2 separate regions of the Homo sapiens genome follow, and region 1 is linked to region 2. A link means that fine-mapping ties the variant in region 2 to the expression of a gene that starts in the linked region. Tissue or cell type: whole blood. Region 2 holds a variant in brackets; the other region holds the start of a gene. All regions are shown on one strand. Distances are from middle to middle.

Region 1 (6,407 bases), 150 kb after region 2:
AATGAGTCTCTACTTAGTTTATCCTCTAACAAAATGCCTTTATTTCATAATACCCTTCACAAACTGCAATTAGTTAATCCATAAAACTGTTAACAATAAATGAGATACAGCACATGAGTGCTTCTCGAACTTTGTTTTTTGTTTTTGTTTTTTTTTTTTTTTGAGACGGAGTCTTACTCTGTCGCCAGGCTGGAGTGCAGTGGTGTGATCTTGGCTCACTGCAGCCTCCGCCTCCCCGGTTCAAGCAATTCTCCTGTCTCAGCCTCCTGAGTAGCTGGGACTACAGGGCGTGCCACCACGCCCAGCTAATTTTTGTATTTTTAGTAGAGACGGGGTTCACCATGTTGGCCAGGATGGTCTCGATCTCTTGACCTCGTGATCCGCCCGCCTCAGCCTCCCAAAGTGCTGGGATTGCAGGCGTGAGCCACCGCGCCCGGCCTTCTCGAAAGTTAATGTACATACAAATCACCTACAAACATGTTAAAATGAAGACTGATTCATTATTAGGTCGGTGGCAGCCAGTGATGTCCAGGCTGCTGTCCACGGACTACAAGGATACACACCTAGCACAGTGGTTGGCACCCAGACTACTCAGCCCAGTTAACTATTTCCTCCCATTTGTAAATTTCTCATCTCCCTTACTCATCTCACCTTCCTTGGAAGCAAAGACAATGTCTTTCATTTTCGTATCTTTCAAAGTTCTAAGTAGAATGCCTTATCTACATAATGGCATTGAATATATGTATTCTGAATGAATGGCATCCAGCTTTTAACAGTCATTACTTCTATGAGTTATCGACAAAATTGTTTCTCTGAATTTACTTTAAATGGAAAAAAATTGTTCAAAAGCTGAAAAATCAGGAAAGCTCTCAGTTTTTAAAAAACGAGAAATACTGTATTTGTACCATACTCCAGTGCGTTTTTTCTCATGCTGACCTAACCAAGTCTTTTTTAAGAAAATAAATATCCATAATTACCTTGCTAGTTTATCTCCTAATGGCTTTTTTTTTTTTTTTTTTGGTAAAGAACAAAAATAAGCCATCCATTTTTCTGGGAAAGTTTTAAAATTATCCTTTTCTTTGTATGTAAGGGCATCTTCGTAAAGCTAATACCTACAAAATAATCCTGGCTTCTCAGATTAATATTACATAAAAATCACGGTATCCTTGTTATCAATAGAGAGATCGTTGGCAGTTTCATGTGTTTCTTCGCCGATTTTCTGTGATCACCGGAACAAGTGACTAAATATCTCAGGGTTCGTTTCTTCCCTTGTAAATATTAGCTGTTAACCTGACCACACTTGGTTCTATGCTGAGAAAAATGGTTTGAGAGGGTGTTTTGAGCACTCCAGAAAGAAAACAAAGGACGAATATTATTTTCACTTCCTACTTGTTTACCTTTACTGTTTCATGGCTTTTTGGATATTTTTGGGTGACTGCCAACTATCAAACACAATTATTTTTTAGTACCTAAGGGCATGGTAACAAAGGATCGGGTTTTAATCATACCATGAACTGAAAACAACATGAACGGTCTTGCAAATAAACGTAATCACTTTTTGGCTTCTCCGCACAGACAACACATCGATGCCTCCGAACTGGCGACCTTAAGCCTCGAAGCGCAGTCCCGCCTCTGCAGGCGGCCACCGCGCGGGGCTGGGTGGTCCCCTGGGAGAGGCCCGGCCGGCGCACAGCGGTTCCAAGATCTCAACCAGGTTTTGGTTTTTCGTCGTTATTAAAATTGCTGTTTGGGTGTGTGTCTTTTTTTTTTTTTAAGACAAGACACTAGGCCAATTGCGCGGCGCTAGCCGGCGGCGGGGCAGGCATTTCGGAGGACCGGGAAGCTCGGAGGCAGCGGCTGTGACCTCCAGACCGTCCTCCTGCGTCCTCATTAAGGAGGCAAAATGGTGGCCGCGAACGCCATCAGGCTGCGCCAGCGCGGGGTTTCGGCGCAAACAGAGGATCCCGTCAGATTCAGGCGGCCAGAACTCCTCCTCACCCAGGCCACCCCCCGGGGCCCACAGCCTGGACAGCTACGGGCGTGGCGCCTGCGGCACCGAGACCCCAGGCGAGAGTGTGGAGGCGGCGGCGGCTTCCCCGCGACCGTGAACAACGACGCCATTATCAGCACCCCCTGCCGGCGCCTCCGGCGCAGCCCGCGCAGGATGCAAGGCCCGGCCTCCGAGGGAGGGGGAAGGAGGACGGGGCGGGAGGAGGGGAAGAGGGTGAAGAGGGCGGGAGGAGAAAGAAGAAGGCGGGAGGAGGGGAGAGAGAAGAGGGAGGGAAGAGGGGAGAGAGGCGGGGCGGGGCGGGGGAGAGAGGCGGGGCGGGGCGGGGCGGAGCGGCGGGCCGGGCGGGCTACGGGGACGGGGGCAGGGCGACTGCTGCTGCCGGGTGGCCCCCTCCTCAGGCCGCCCTTTCCCTGCGGGTGGGAACTCCAGATGGACGAGGGCCCACCCCACCCGGCGCTTCCCCGTGCAGCCCGGGGTCGCGGCGGGCGGCGAGGGCAGCGGCTCCCCGGCTCCCCTACCTTACCTTCCCTGTCCTTCTCGTCCGCCATCTTGCTGCGGAGCCGGTCGCCTGGGAGATGCCTAACGATAACCTCGGCCGCGGTGTCCCGGCCTGCTCAGCGCCCCGCGGCGAGCCTGGCCTGGAGGAGGGGCCGCTCTGAATCCCGGGGGAGGAAGACCCTTGGGCGGGGCGGGGCGGGGAGGAGGCTCCGAGCGCGCGCCCTGTCCCCGTTTCGCGCCACGACCCTCGCGCTGGGGGAAGACCAGAGGCCCCGTCTGCCACCCGGCCCCCGGCCTTGTCCCTCCAGACCCGAGGCCGGAGCCGGACTTGTCCCGGGCCTAGCATGTTGCTTCATCACACGGTCCCCAACCCCTCCTTTCCCTTATTTCTCATCCATTTGGGGACAGCACGCGCGCGCACACACCCCTCGCCCCCTCCTGTCCTGTTTGTGCGACGTGGCGTTGCTCGATTTTTGTTGTTAACTGCAGATTTTGAAAAGCGCCGGAGAGCTAGGTGAAGAGCTGGGCTCCCAAGGGGGTGATAGAACCAGCCCGCGGCCCGGCCTCCTCCTCCCGCTTCCCATTCGCAGCCCGCCTCCCGCCGGGAAGCGGCCCGGCTGCTGCAGAACGGCCGCGCCTGCCCTCCCGGTTTCTCCCGTCCAGTCTTCACCGTCCTTTCCCAGAGAAAGCGACAGCACAGCCTATGACAACCGAAGCTAAAACGGAAAAACTGGGCCGGGCGCAAGAGGAAACCAGAGCCATTCGACTATTGCTAGAGGAGAGGAATAGCTGCAGGAAAACATGCGCAAAATAGCACAAACATTGCGTCGTCAAGGCTGCAATGTCTAATACAAAATAGAAGGTTCTCATAGCAACAAAAACGTGCCCATGTTGTGCTCAGTATTACATGCGTTAAAATGTTCTTAGTTGTGAAATTTGACATGACCGCTAGTTAAAGTTACAATGGAAGTTTTAAATCCCGCTTTCCGAAAACTTTGCAGCTATAGCATGAAGTTAAATTTTTGTCTTATTTTCTGGATAAGTTTACTATACTGGAACATAGTAAAGCTCTTTTTATAAAGAGCTTTGAATAAAATACCTAATGATGTGGTTGAAACGAACACCTATTTTCAAAACTAATCTTAAGTGGTATTTCAGTGCATATGTTATGTAAAAGCAATTTATAAACTAAATTTTAAGAGCCTTCAAAATACAAGGTACTCGTATTTAATGACTTAACAGTTTTAATGCTTTTATTGTTTCTATAATCTCTCAGGAAATCCTAAAACTGACTATATTTTTCTTTATTAAAATAACTTTTTCTGTAGAAGATACCCATTTGGCGCTGTGATCAGCATTCTACTTGAAATTGAATATAAACAACTGAATCATTACAAAATGGCTCATGTTAGAAGATACTTAAAACGAATACAATCTTGTACAGTAAATGTTTAACACCCCAAAATAACGAAAAGTAATTATTAGCATTCATTTATATCTAAATCTCAGTCAATATGATCTAAATATTTGTGTTTAAAGACTCCCCCTTTCCATATAGATAATGAAGGGCTTTGAAATAAGTGTAGGAAACCCTAAGTTTGGTCTCAGGCTTCCTATTCATTCACTATGCTTTTTCGTGTGCTGTTTACAGTTTCCTTTTTCTGGAATGCCTTTCCCTGCTTTTTTCCCCCGCCAACATTTCAGCTTCCCACAGACACACATTTGTGCCCTCCTGGTTGTCCTGCAGGATGACCTTTGTTTTTGTTTTTGTCTTTTGTTTTTCGAGACAGGGTCTCGCTCTGTCGTCCAGGATGGAGTGCAGTGGTGTGATCTCTGCTCACTGCAACTTCCGCCTCCCGGTCTCAAGTGACCCTCCCACCGCAACCTCCCAAGTAGCTGGGAGGAGCGGCGCGCGCCACCATGTCTGGCTAGTTTTTGTATTTTTTGTAGAGACAGAGTTTCCCCATGTTGCCCAGGCTGCTCTCAAACTCCTGAGCTCAAGCGATCTGCCGCCTGCCTGGCCCTCCCAAAGTTCTGGGATTACAGGTGTGAGCCACTGTGCCTGGCCAGGATGACCTTTTTGAAGTCACCTAGTCATTGAAGCTTTCCCTCTCAGCCTTTTCCTCTGTGGCCCCATGCTTATAGAGCCTCCCACATTGATTTGCAGTGCCTTCGTTCGTTCACTTTATTTCCACCTACCAAACAGTAAGATCTTGAAGACAGAAACGGCATTATTCGTTTATATATCCCCGGTATCTAGTACAATTTTTCTGTTTGCAATAATAAATGTCTTAAAACTTAAGAAAGGAGTAAGTCTTCTCAATGACTTTTTTTAAAAAAGACCCAGATTCAGCACTTATTGTATGTAAGACAGACCTTCCTTTTACATTACATTTTTCATCAGTAAAAGTACTGGGCCAGGCGCGGTGGCTCACGCATAATCTCAGCACTTTGGGAGGCTGAAGCGGGTGGATCACTTCAGGTCATGAGTTAAAGACCCACCTGGCCAACATGGTAAAACCCCATCTCTACTAAAAATAGAAAAATTAGCCGAATGTGGTGGCTCACGCCTGTAATCCCAGCTACTCGGGAGGCTGAGACAGAAGAATCGCTTGAACCCAGGAGGCAGAGGTTGCAGTGAGCCGAGATCCGCCACTGCACTCCAGCCCAGATGACAGAGCAAGACTCCATCCCCAAAAAAAGGTACTAGTATTTCATGTTAATAAAATGGAATTCTTATATAAACATATATAAATTAAAAATTATTTTAAGAGTTGAACAGATTTCTCTGCAAATCCCCCTATATTTTTATATTTTTTAAACTAACTGTATTCAGCAAAGCTTTTTATTATTTAATTTATTCCAAACCACATTAATCAGTATTTCTCTGAACTCCTACAGCACATTTAAAACAGTACTGTTTCTCTAGGTGTGGGTGAGTAAAAAAATATTTAATATATGTTAATTAACTTCCGCATCTCCTGACCCCACTAAGGTTTGAATAGGAGCCTCCCCCTTTATAAACCCTTTTTATATACCCACACTACCTAGCCTAATTGGGGCACATATTAGCTGCTTCATACATACTTTTCAACTGCCTAATTTGCTGATTAGGCATAAAAGTATATAATTCTGGAAAAGTCTCCACAAGGTGAAAATGATTATCCAAATAATAAAGGCCCACAATGCCAGTGAGTACATTATCTGCATTATGCTGATATTTGACTCCTTTCAACTCTCTTTGGTTGTAGAAACATGACCGATGATTATATTACACTTTTAACTCTTTAAATATTATTAGCTTGCTTTGGACTGTGGAAAACTAACTACAATCATTTTTATTCCTCAGAATATATTTTGCGGCCGGGCACGGTGGCTCATGCCTGTATACCCAGCACTTTGGGAGGCCGAGGTGGGCAGATCACGAGGCCAGGAGTTCGAGACCAACCTGGCCAATATGGTGTAACCCCGTCTCTACTAAAAGTACAAACATTAGGTGGGCATAGTGCTGCAAGCCTGTAGTCCTAGCTACTCAGGAGGCTGAGGCAGAAGAATCACTTGAACCCAGGAGGCAGAGGTTGCAGTGAGCCAAGATCATGGCATTGCACTCCAGCCTGGGTGACAGAGCAAGACTCCATCTTAAAAAATATATATATATATATAGATAGATAGATAGATAGATGTATATATACATATACGTATACATATACGTATATGTATACGTATACATATATGTAGAGTATATATACATCTACGTATATGTATACTCTACATATATGTGTATATATACATATATACTCTACATATATACACATATATATGTATATGGCTTCTGAGCTATAGCTTGAGTAACTTGTTAACTTGTAATACTTGAGTAACTTGTAATATTGTATGCTGC
Region 2 (8,421 bases):
GATGAGGGGCTGAGTAAAATGAGGCTGAGATCTGCTGGGCTGCGTCCCCAGCCTGTTAGGCATTCTAAGTCACAGGATGAGACAGGAGGTCACCACAAGATACAGGTCATAAAGACCTTACTGATAAAACAGGTTGCAGTAGAGAAGTGGCCAAAACCCACCAAACCCAAAATGGTGATGAGAGTGGCCTCTGGTCGACCTCACTGCTCATTATATGCTAATTATAATGCATTAGCATGCTAAGAGACACTCCCACCTGCGCCATGACAGTTTACAAATGCCAGGGCAATGTCAAGAAGTTATCCTACACGGTCTAAAAGGGGGAGGAACCCTCCGTTCCAGGAATTGCCCACCCCTTTCCCTCATGAATAATCCAGCCCTTGTTTAGCATATAATCAAGAAATAATCATAAAAATGGGCAACCGGCCCGGCGTGGTGACTCACGCCTGTAATCCCAGCACTTTGGGAGGCCGAGGCGGGTGGATCACGAGTCACGCCTGTCATCCCAGCACTTTGGGAGGCCGAGGCGGGTGGATCACGAGGTCAGGAGATCGAGACCATCCTGGCTAACATGTGAAACCTCATCTCTACTAAAAATACAAAAAATTAGCCGGGCATGGTGGCGGGCGCCTGTAGTCCCAGCTACTCGGGAGGCTGAGGCAGGAGAATGGCGTGAACCCGGGAGGCGGAGCTTGCAGTGAGCCGAGATTGTGCCACCGCACTCCAGCCTGGGCGACAGAGCCAGACTCCATCTCAAAGAAAAAAAAAAAAAAATGGGCAACCAGCAGCCCTCGGAGCTGCTCTGCCTATGGAGTAGCCATTCTTTACTCCTTTGTTTTCTTAACAAACTTGCTTTCACTTCACTCTATGGACTCCCCCTGAATTCTTTCTTGGGCGATATCCAAGAACCCTCTCTCGGCGTCTGGATCGAGACTTCTTTCTGATAACAGTCCTACTATCTGTGGAAGCCCTAGGGTCCTGAGGAACTTGTGAGGACAATCTGGCTTCCTGGGAAAACCCTCAGCCCCAGCCACTAACAGGGCAGGACATATGGGGAGGAAAGAGCCTTGATATCATCCCATATGTTGAAAAACAATTGCTATTCCAACTACAGTTGCTTCTGCCTTCTAAGGCAGGTGTCATGATTCATGTGATGTGAAGATCAAGTCCTTGCCTTCCCTTTGGCTTAAAAAGATTGCTGATGGAAAACTGAGAGAATTTGATTGAGTTGAGGCATAGGATAACCACCAAGTTTGTGCAGGTGCTTGCAGCCCTAAGGGGAGAGGTGCAGAATGGGTGGTCCCTTGCTAAGCAGAGGCTTTGGAAATGCCGCAGCAGGAGGTGGGAGAGTGGAATTGCTCTAGGAGGTGAGACAAGGAGCTGACATTGAGCCAGAGAGGGAGAGCCAAAACCTGGGGGAAGGCTGGGCTACAAAGAAAGGACAGAGCCAGGGAGAAATTTCCCACAGCAGTAATGGTGAAAAACACTTTTTTAAATGGGCGAATATCATGGATGCTCGTAGCAACATTTTCGTAATAGCCAAAAAGTGAAAACAGCACAAATGCTCATCAGCTGATGAAGGGATAAGCAAACATGGCATCTCCAAACAGTGGAACGAAGTGGTGTGATCCTGAGTGGGGTCTGTGAAGCACAGCAGGCTTGGCCAGCCACGGTAACCACGATGGGTCCATCGCTGGATGGGACCAGAAAGTGAATACGCCGAGGCATAGGGTTGTAGCAGAGAAAGAGGTTTCATCGTAGGGCCACCGAAGGAGGAAATGGGAGGAAACGTCAAATCCATCTCCCTGAGGAGTTTGGGGCTGGGGTTTTTAAGGGTTTGGGAGTGGAGACTGGAGTGTGGAGATGGTTGATTGGTCGAAGTGTGCAGGGTGGAGTCATGGGAGAGGGAGACGAAGCTGTATTTTCATGCTGATCACATTCCTCTGTGGGGGTCTTCAAACTGGTTGGTGTCGGCTGTTTTGCTGGAATTCAGGATCTGAAAAACATCTTAAGCAAGTCTTAAACAAAAATCTTATGATTCTAATGTCAGAGATCCCATCTATTTTAAACAAAAGCCTTGTGATTCTAAGGTCAGAAATTGTATCTATAGGAACAACGGGGATGCAAATGTTACCTAGTGCTACGTCACTGTTGGTTACAAGGAAGTGGGTCAAAGTGCAGGCTGACTGATGCTTACTTACAACTATATTTCTGTCCAGAATTCTTCTTAATCCTGTGAGGATGGCTCACCATATCGTGCTCAATCATGGTGCCAAAATGCCTGTCCTGGGGCTGGACACCTAGAATTCCCCTCCAGGCCAAGTGACGGAGTCTGTGAAGCTTGAGAACGTTGCCACTGTCAGCAAGCTGCGGTGCTCATACCATGAGAAGAGCCTGATAAAGGAGCCTGTCAGAAGACCCTCAGGGGACCACCTGGATTCCTACCTTATTCACTGGCCAACAGGCTATTTTTCCTGTTGGATGGGACAGACAACGTGGTACCTAGTGACACCAACTTCATGTCACATGGGTGGCCACATGGAGGAGCTGGTGGATGAAGGGCTCTGAAAGCTTTTGGAATCTCCAACTGCAGCCATCTCCAAGAGATGGTAAAGAAACCTGGCTTAAGACCAGGTGTGGTGTCTCAGCCTGTAATCCCAGCACTTTGGGAGGCCAAGGCGGGAGGATCACTTGAGCCCAGGAACTCGAGGCTGCAGTGAGTTATGATCATGCCACTACACTCCAGGCCTGAGTGATAGAGTGAGACCCTGTCTCTAAATATATATATATATATATGACAGACAGAAAAAAAGAAACCTGGCTTAAAAACAGTGGTTAACCACAGTGAGTGCCACCTGCACCCACCTCAGGAGAAGTTAATCCAGGGCTGCCAATCCAAAGGCAAGGTGGTGACTGCCTGTAGTCCCCTCAGCTCTCGTGACAGGTCTGGGGGATCCCAGCACCAAAGCAATCACAGCCAAGCACAGTAAAAAAAATAAACAAATAAAAACGCAGCCCAGGTTCTGATCTGGTTTCCCATGCATAGGAATTTGGTGGTAATTCCTATCATCATTTCGGTGGTGATGCTGGAACGCACTGCTGAAAACTTGGAGGACTTCGACTTTCAACTGAGCAGCCTGATGTGACCACTGTAGTCAGCTACAACAGGAACGGGAGGGTCTGTGTCTTGGTGAGCTGTGCCTCCTGCAAGGATTACCCCTTCAACACTGAGCTTTAAAGCTATAGGTACCTGCTCTTCCCCCAGTGCCTTGCACCTCTTTTTCCTGCCTCAGTTTTTCTAGCAAGTGTAGTATGGCCTGTGTCCCTTAACGGCGGGTCAGCAACCTGCAGACTGGCCAGCACGGGTGTGGTCAGGTTGATGCTGTGTCCAAAGAGCAGTTTGTGTAGACGAGACGTCTCTTCCAGTTTTCTTTGCCCTTTTTCTTGTCCGGCTGGGAGAAGTACATCCTGAATACCCTTTTCCAGCCAAAATGAAGCAAAACCTACGGTCCAAATAGTGCCACTTGGAGTTGCGTTTTGACTGCTGGAACTGTAATCCCTGTAGCCAGTCTCCTTGCCTCAAATAAAAAGTGAGGCTTTTTATTTGTGAGCTTAACAAAAAAGAATGAACTAAGGATATACATTACAACATGGATGAACCTCAAAAGCCTTACACTAAATGAAAGAAGCCAGACACAGAAGGCCACATATTGTATGATTGTGTTTATGTGAAATGCCCTGAAGAGGCAAATCCACAGACACACAGGAAGATTAGCGGTTGCCCGAGGATGACGGTGGGGGAAGGGGAACTGCTATTGGACATGGGGATTCTTTTTAAGATGATGGAAATGCTTTGTAAGTAGATAGGAGTGATAGTTGCACAGCACTGTGAAGATACTAGAATCCATTGAATTGCACACTTGAATGGGGTGAATGTTGGCTGGGCACAGTGGCTCACATCTGTAATCCTAACACTTTGGGAGGCTGAGGTGGCAGGATCGCTTGAACCCAGGAGTTTGAGACCAGCCTAAGCAACATAGCCAGACCCTGTCTCTACAAAAAATAAAAAAAAACATTAGCTGGGCGTGGTGGCATGCACCTGTGGTCCCAGCTACTCAGGAGGCTGAGGCGCGAGGACCCCTTGAGTCCAGGAGGTCGATGCTACAGTGAGCTGTGATCATGCCACCTGCATTCCAGCTGGGGTGACAGTGAAACCCTGTCTCCAGAAAAAAAGTGGGGAGGGGATGGTGAGTGTTGAGGTATGTGAATGACTATTATATAAGCTGTTGTTTGTAAATGGGCTAATATTAAAATTTAAACTGTGTGCTGTCACTTGCTACTAAGTCACTCTGCCTCGTTTCTTCACCCTTCGTTCAAGGTGTACCACATTCAACGCCATGCTTCTGGGTACTTCTAAGCAAATGTTTGGATGAATATGGAGAGAAGAGAACAGCTAGACAAAGCAAGATACAGAGAGGAGATCAAGAGTTAAGGAAGCAGCCGGGTGCGGTGGCTCATGCCTGTAATCCCAGAACTTT[G/A]GGAGGCTGAGGCGGGAGGATCACTTGAGGTCAGGAGTTCGAGACCAGGAGGTCACCAGACCATGGTGAAACCCCGTCTCTACTAAAAATACAGAAATTAGCCAGGCGTGGTGGTGTGTGCCTGTCATCCCAGCTGCTCAGGAGGCTGAGGCAGGAGAATCTCTTGAACCCGGGAGGTGGAGGTTGCAACGAGCCAAGATCACGCCACTGCACTTCAGCCTGGGCGACGGAGCGAAACTCCATCTAAAATAAAATAAAATAAAATAAGAAAAAAGAAAAGAAAAATAATTAAGAAAGCAAAAAAGTAGATGAAGAAGTAGCTAAGACAAGCCTAAGGCCTGTGAGGCTGCTGAGGGAATTTTCAGTAGAGGAGCCAGACGGAGGGGTTGATGCTTTGCCTCCTGCTGGAGGCACTGGGACTGCGGGAGATATTTGCTGACGCTGGACAGCCCTCGTTTTGGTTCAGATCCGTACCTCTCCCCCACGCAGCACATACACTTTAGGGAAGGCCAGCCCGGCCTTTGGTAGTAGAGGTGCAGCACTGTCTCAGGCCTAAGCTAGGCAGTGATGGTTCCAACAGGGACTTGGCTGATCAAGTCAGAATAAAGTTCAAGACTGTTTCATGGCTAGGGATAGAGGTATTGTTTCCTGGTGATCTGTCTCTGCAAGGGAAAGACCATGGGCTGTCTCTGCCATCTTGAGGATATGAGGAAGGGGGCTGCCTGAAAATGAAGCCAACCCAAAGAAACAGATGCAAGAATTGGATTCTGATCATGGCATCTGAGCCCTGGATCAAGCTGCATCTGAAGCTATGTCTGCTTTTGGACTCTTCCGTTACATATAAGCCAGTTAATTCCTTTTATGGGTTGAGCTTTCTGTTACTTGGAACAGCAACGATCACATCTATGGTCAAATGATAATTTTGTAAAATACAAAGACTGCAAATACACCTCCGTATTTCCCTATTATATCACTTATTTCTTTGTTACAGGTTTATAAAAAGGGGCATAAAACTTCCTGAAAATTCTGCCTACATAACATTTGTATGAGTTTCATAATTAATAAAAATATACAAAGGTTTCAAAACTAAAGAAACTTAAGAAAAATGTAGTTGACCAAATTAATTTTGAACTGTATTTGCCCTAAATATTTTAAAAGTAGAAGTCTATGCTTGACAAACCCAGATGAACCTGGCTTAACACCATTCCTGTCAACACCTCCACTGTCCGGTCTTTGTAAAAGGCCAGGTGTCATATTGTTTGAGGCTTTAGCGGCCTGCAAGGCAAAGTGGGCCAAACCTAACATTGCTTTTAACTGGTAATCTGCCCAAATTGCATTATTCCACGTTATTCATGTATCACCCCCGAGGTGCCTTCCCATTGAAGAAATTAGCTCAGAAGCTCTTCATTTAAGGTGCGAAGTGACAGGTGTCTCTGTATCTAAAATGGAAATTATAGCAATTGCTGAAAATGTTGCAATCACTGCTTGGGTATACAAGAGACACACCCAAAATAAAATGTTTGAAAAATGCTGAAAATAAAAGGATAAGCAAAAGTCTACCAGGCAAAAGAAAATGAGGAAAAGGCTGAAGTCTAGTTCTACATGAACCAGAACAGCCACTGCAATTTAAACTCGAATTTCTGTTCTGAACAGCATTTTTGTCAGGAAAAAAATACAAATAATAAACAAATAAATCAGAGTTTCTGAAAGATGGAAAACTGCTTCCATATTCTTGAGAAGGGAACTGGTTAAATAAAATATGGCACATTCACGCAATAGAATACTACACAGACATTGAGATCGATGAGGTGGGTATTTATACAATTAGGAACTGAGCGTATGGGACCTGTTGCTTAGTGAGAAAAGTGTGATGTGTAGAGATGCGTGAAGGGCGCATAAGGATGCTACCTGCCTGTTCACACAAGGATTCCCTGGAATCGGTGCACTCAGGGGAGAGGGATCCGAGTGGTTTTGGGACACATTTATAAAAAAAAATTAGTTTTTACTCTATGAGCCTTCATACCTTTTGAATTTTGTACCACATATATTTTATTCATTCAAAAAAATAAATTAGGTCAGTTTCTTTTTTTACATCTTTCAGATTATGGTCATCCATCTTATTTTAACTAAATGGCCAACAGCCTCTATCTGATGCCCCAGCATTATCCACTGGGTTCAGTTCCTTGCTCTTTTATTTATTTACTTATTTACTTATTTTTTATTTTTTTTTGAGACGGGGTCTCGCTCTGTTGCCCAGGCTGGAGTGCAGTTGCATGATCTAGGCTCACTGCAAGCTCCACCTCCTGGGTTCACGCCATTCTCCTGCCTCAGCCTCCCGAGTAGCTGGGACTACAGGCACCTGCCACCACGTGTGGCTAATTCGTTCTATTTTTAGTAGAGACGGGGCTTCACCATGTTAGCCAGGATGGTCTTGATCTCCTGACCTTGTGATCCGCATGCCTCGGCCTCCCAAAGTGTTGGGATTACAGGCGTGAGCCACCGTGCCCAGCCTCCTTTTTTTTTTTAGACAGGGTCTTGCTCTGTTGCCCAGGCTGGAGCACAGTGGCGTGATCATGGCTCACTTCAGCCTCCTGCCTTAGCCTCCCATGTAGCTGGGACTACAGGCATGCATCACCATGCCCAGTTACTTTTAAATTTTTTTTGTAGAGACAGGGCCTCGCTTTGTTGCCGAGACTGGTCTCCAACTCCTGGCCTCCTGCCTCGGCCTCCCAAAATGCTGAGATTACAGGCATGAGCCACTGTGCCAGGCTCAGTTCTTTACCCTTAATGGTTACTTTTAGTATGAAAAAAAAAAAAACTCTCCAATTTCTTGTATATTGCTCTTTGATGAAAGAATTTGGGGTTAACCAACCCTTAATGTTGCATTTCACTTCATATTCGCACTTCATTATTATTTTGACCACTAGAAGTGAGAAATTATTTTACTGAAAATCATGAATATGCCTTGGTCAAGAGTTCACACTCTTTTTTTCTGTTTAATTAGAAGTACTTGCTTGAATAAACTGTAAACTTACCCATGATTTCCACTTGTGTTATTAATGGTTCTAGCAAACTGGAATTTTCCCACCCTCGCATAACAGCCAGAGGCATGGGTTGGGCTCCGCCAGCATCTCATACCACCAGCAACCAGACAATGCCCAATTCCCTACAGCCTTGGCCCTGCCCCATCATCAAGAATGAGTCAATCCCTCCCCTCTCCCTAGCTGAGGAGCTCATCAGCTGTCCCATGCAAGTAAAGTTCTCTCCTTATATAATGTCTTCTGGAAATCAAAGCATTTCATCAACTGTTGTTATCATTATTTTTTTCTTTTCTTTTCTTTTCTTTTCTTTTCTTTTCTTTTCTTTTTTTGAGATGGCGTTTTGCTCTTGTTGCCCAGGCTGGAGTGCAGTGGTGCGATCTTGGCTTACCACAACCTCCGCCTCCTGGGGCTCAAGCGATTCTCCTGCCTCAGCCTCCTGAGTAGCTGGGATTACAGGCATGCACCACCACGCCAGGCTAATTTTGTATTTTTAGTAGAGACGGGGTTTCTCCCTGTTGGTCAGGCTGATCTCGTACTCCCGACCTTAGGCAGTCTGCCTGCCTCAGCCTCCCAAAGTGCTGGGATTACAGGCGTGAGCCACTGCGCCCGGCTTACTGTCATTGTTTTACAGCACGTAGTATCTTCCCGATAAAGGTTTCTCACTCGTTTTTAAAATGCTCCACAAGGTGACACATGGTGTTCTCCCAGTTCTCCGAAGAAAGCTGCAGGGGCAAACTTCGAGGGCCTTCAGGAAGCCACAACCTCACCTGGCTCCCTCCCCAGCCAAGCCCAGCGCACCTGTCCCTGTGTTGTTCTTGGCTACTCTTCTGTCCTTCAAGATT

The links. PIP is the estimated chance that this variant, and not a neighbour inherited with it, causes the effect.
Region 1: DRC8 starts here. The variant in region 2 is fine-mapped to the expression of DRC8 in whole blood (TOPMed, PIP above 0.99).

The regions. Positions count from the first base shown.
Region 1 is chr1:244,966,571-244,972,977 of GRCh38, reverse strand. It overlaps DRC8 (dynein regulatory complex subunit 8), which reads right to left and starts at 3,296. Exons shown (of 8, transcript NM_032328.4): 1 at 2,935-3,296; 2 at 2,535-2,649. The coding sequence starts at 2,559. LOC124900416 reads left to right here and starts at 2,408. Exons shown (of 4, transcript XM_054328428.1): 1 at 2,408-2,652; 2 at 2,654-2,723; 3 at 2,726-6,005. The coding sequence starts at 2,441. The coding sequence ends at 2,992. It overlaps EFCAB2-AS1 (EFCAB2 antisense RNA 1), which reads left to right and starts at 2,109. Exons shown (of 2, transcript NR_111907.1): 1 at 2,109-2,166; 2 at 2,999-6,407. RefSeq lists enhancers at 1,634-2,003, 4,442-4,946 and silencers at 2,174-2,263, 2,274-2,633, 2,644-2,823, 3,094-3,233.
Region 2 is chr1:245,118,280-245,126,700 of GRCh38, reverse strand. It overlaps a transcript of DRC8 not described here. Among named protein-coding and RNA genes, the nearest start is that of KIF26B, 32 kb to the left of the region's middle. The variant G/A (reference allele first, on the strand shown) is at 4,539.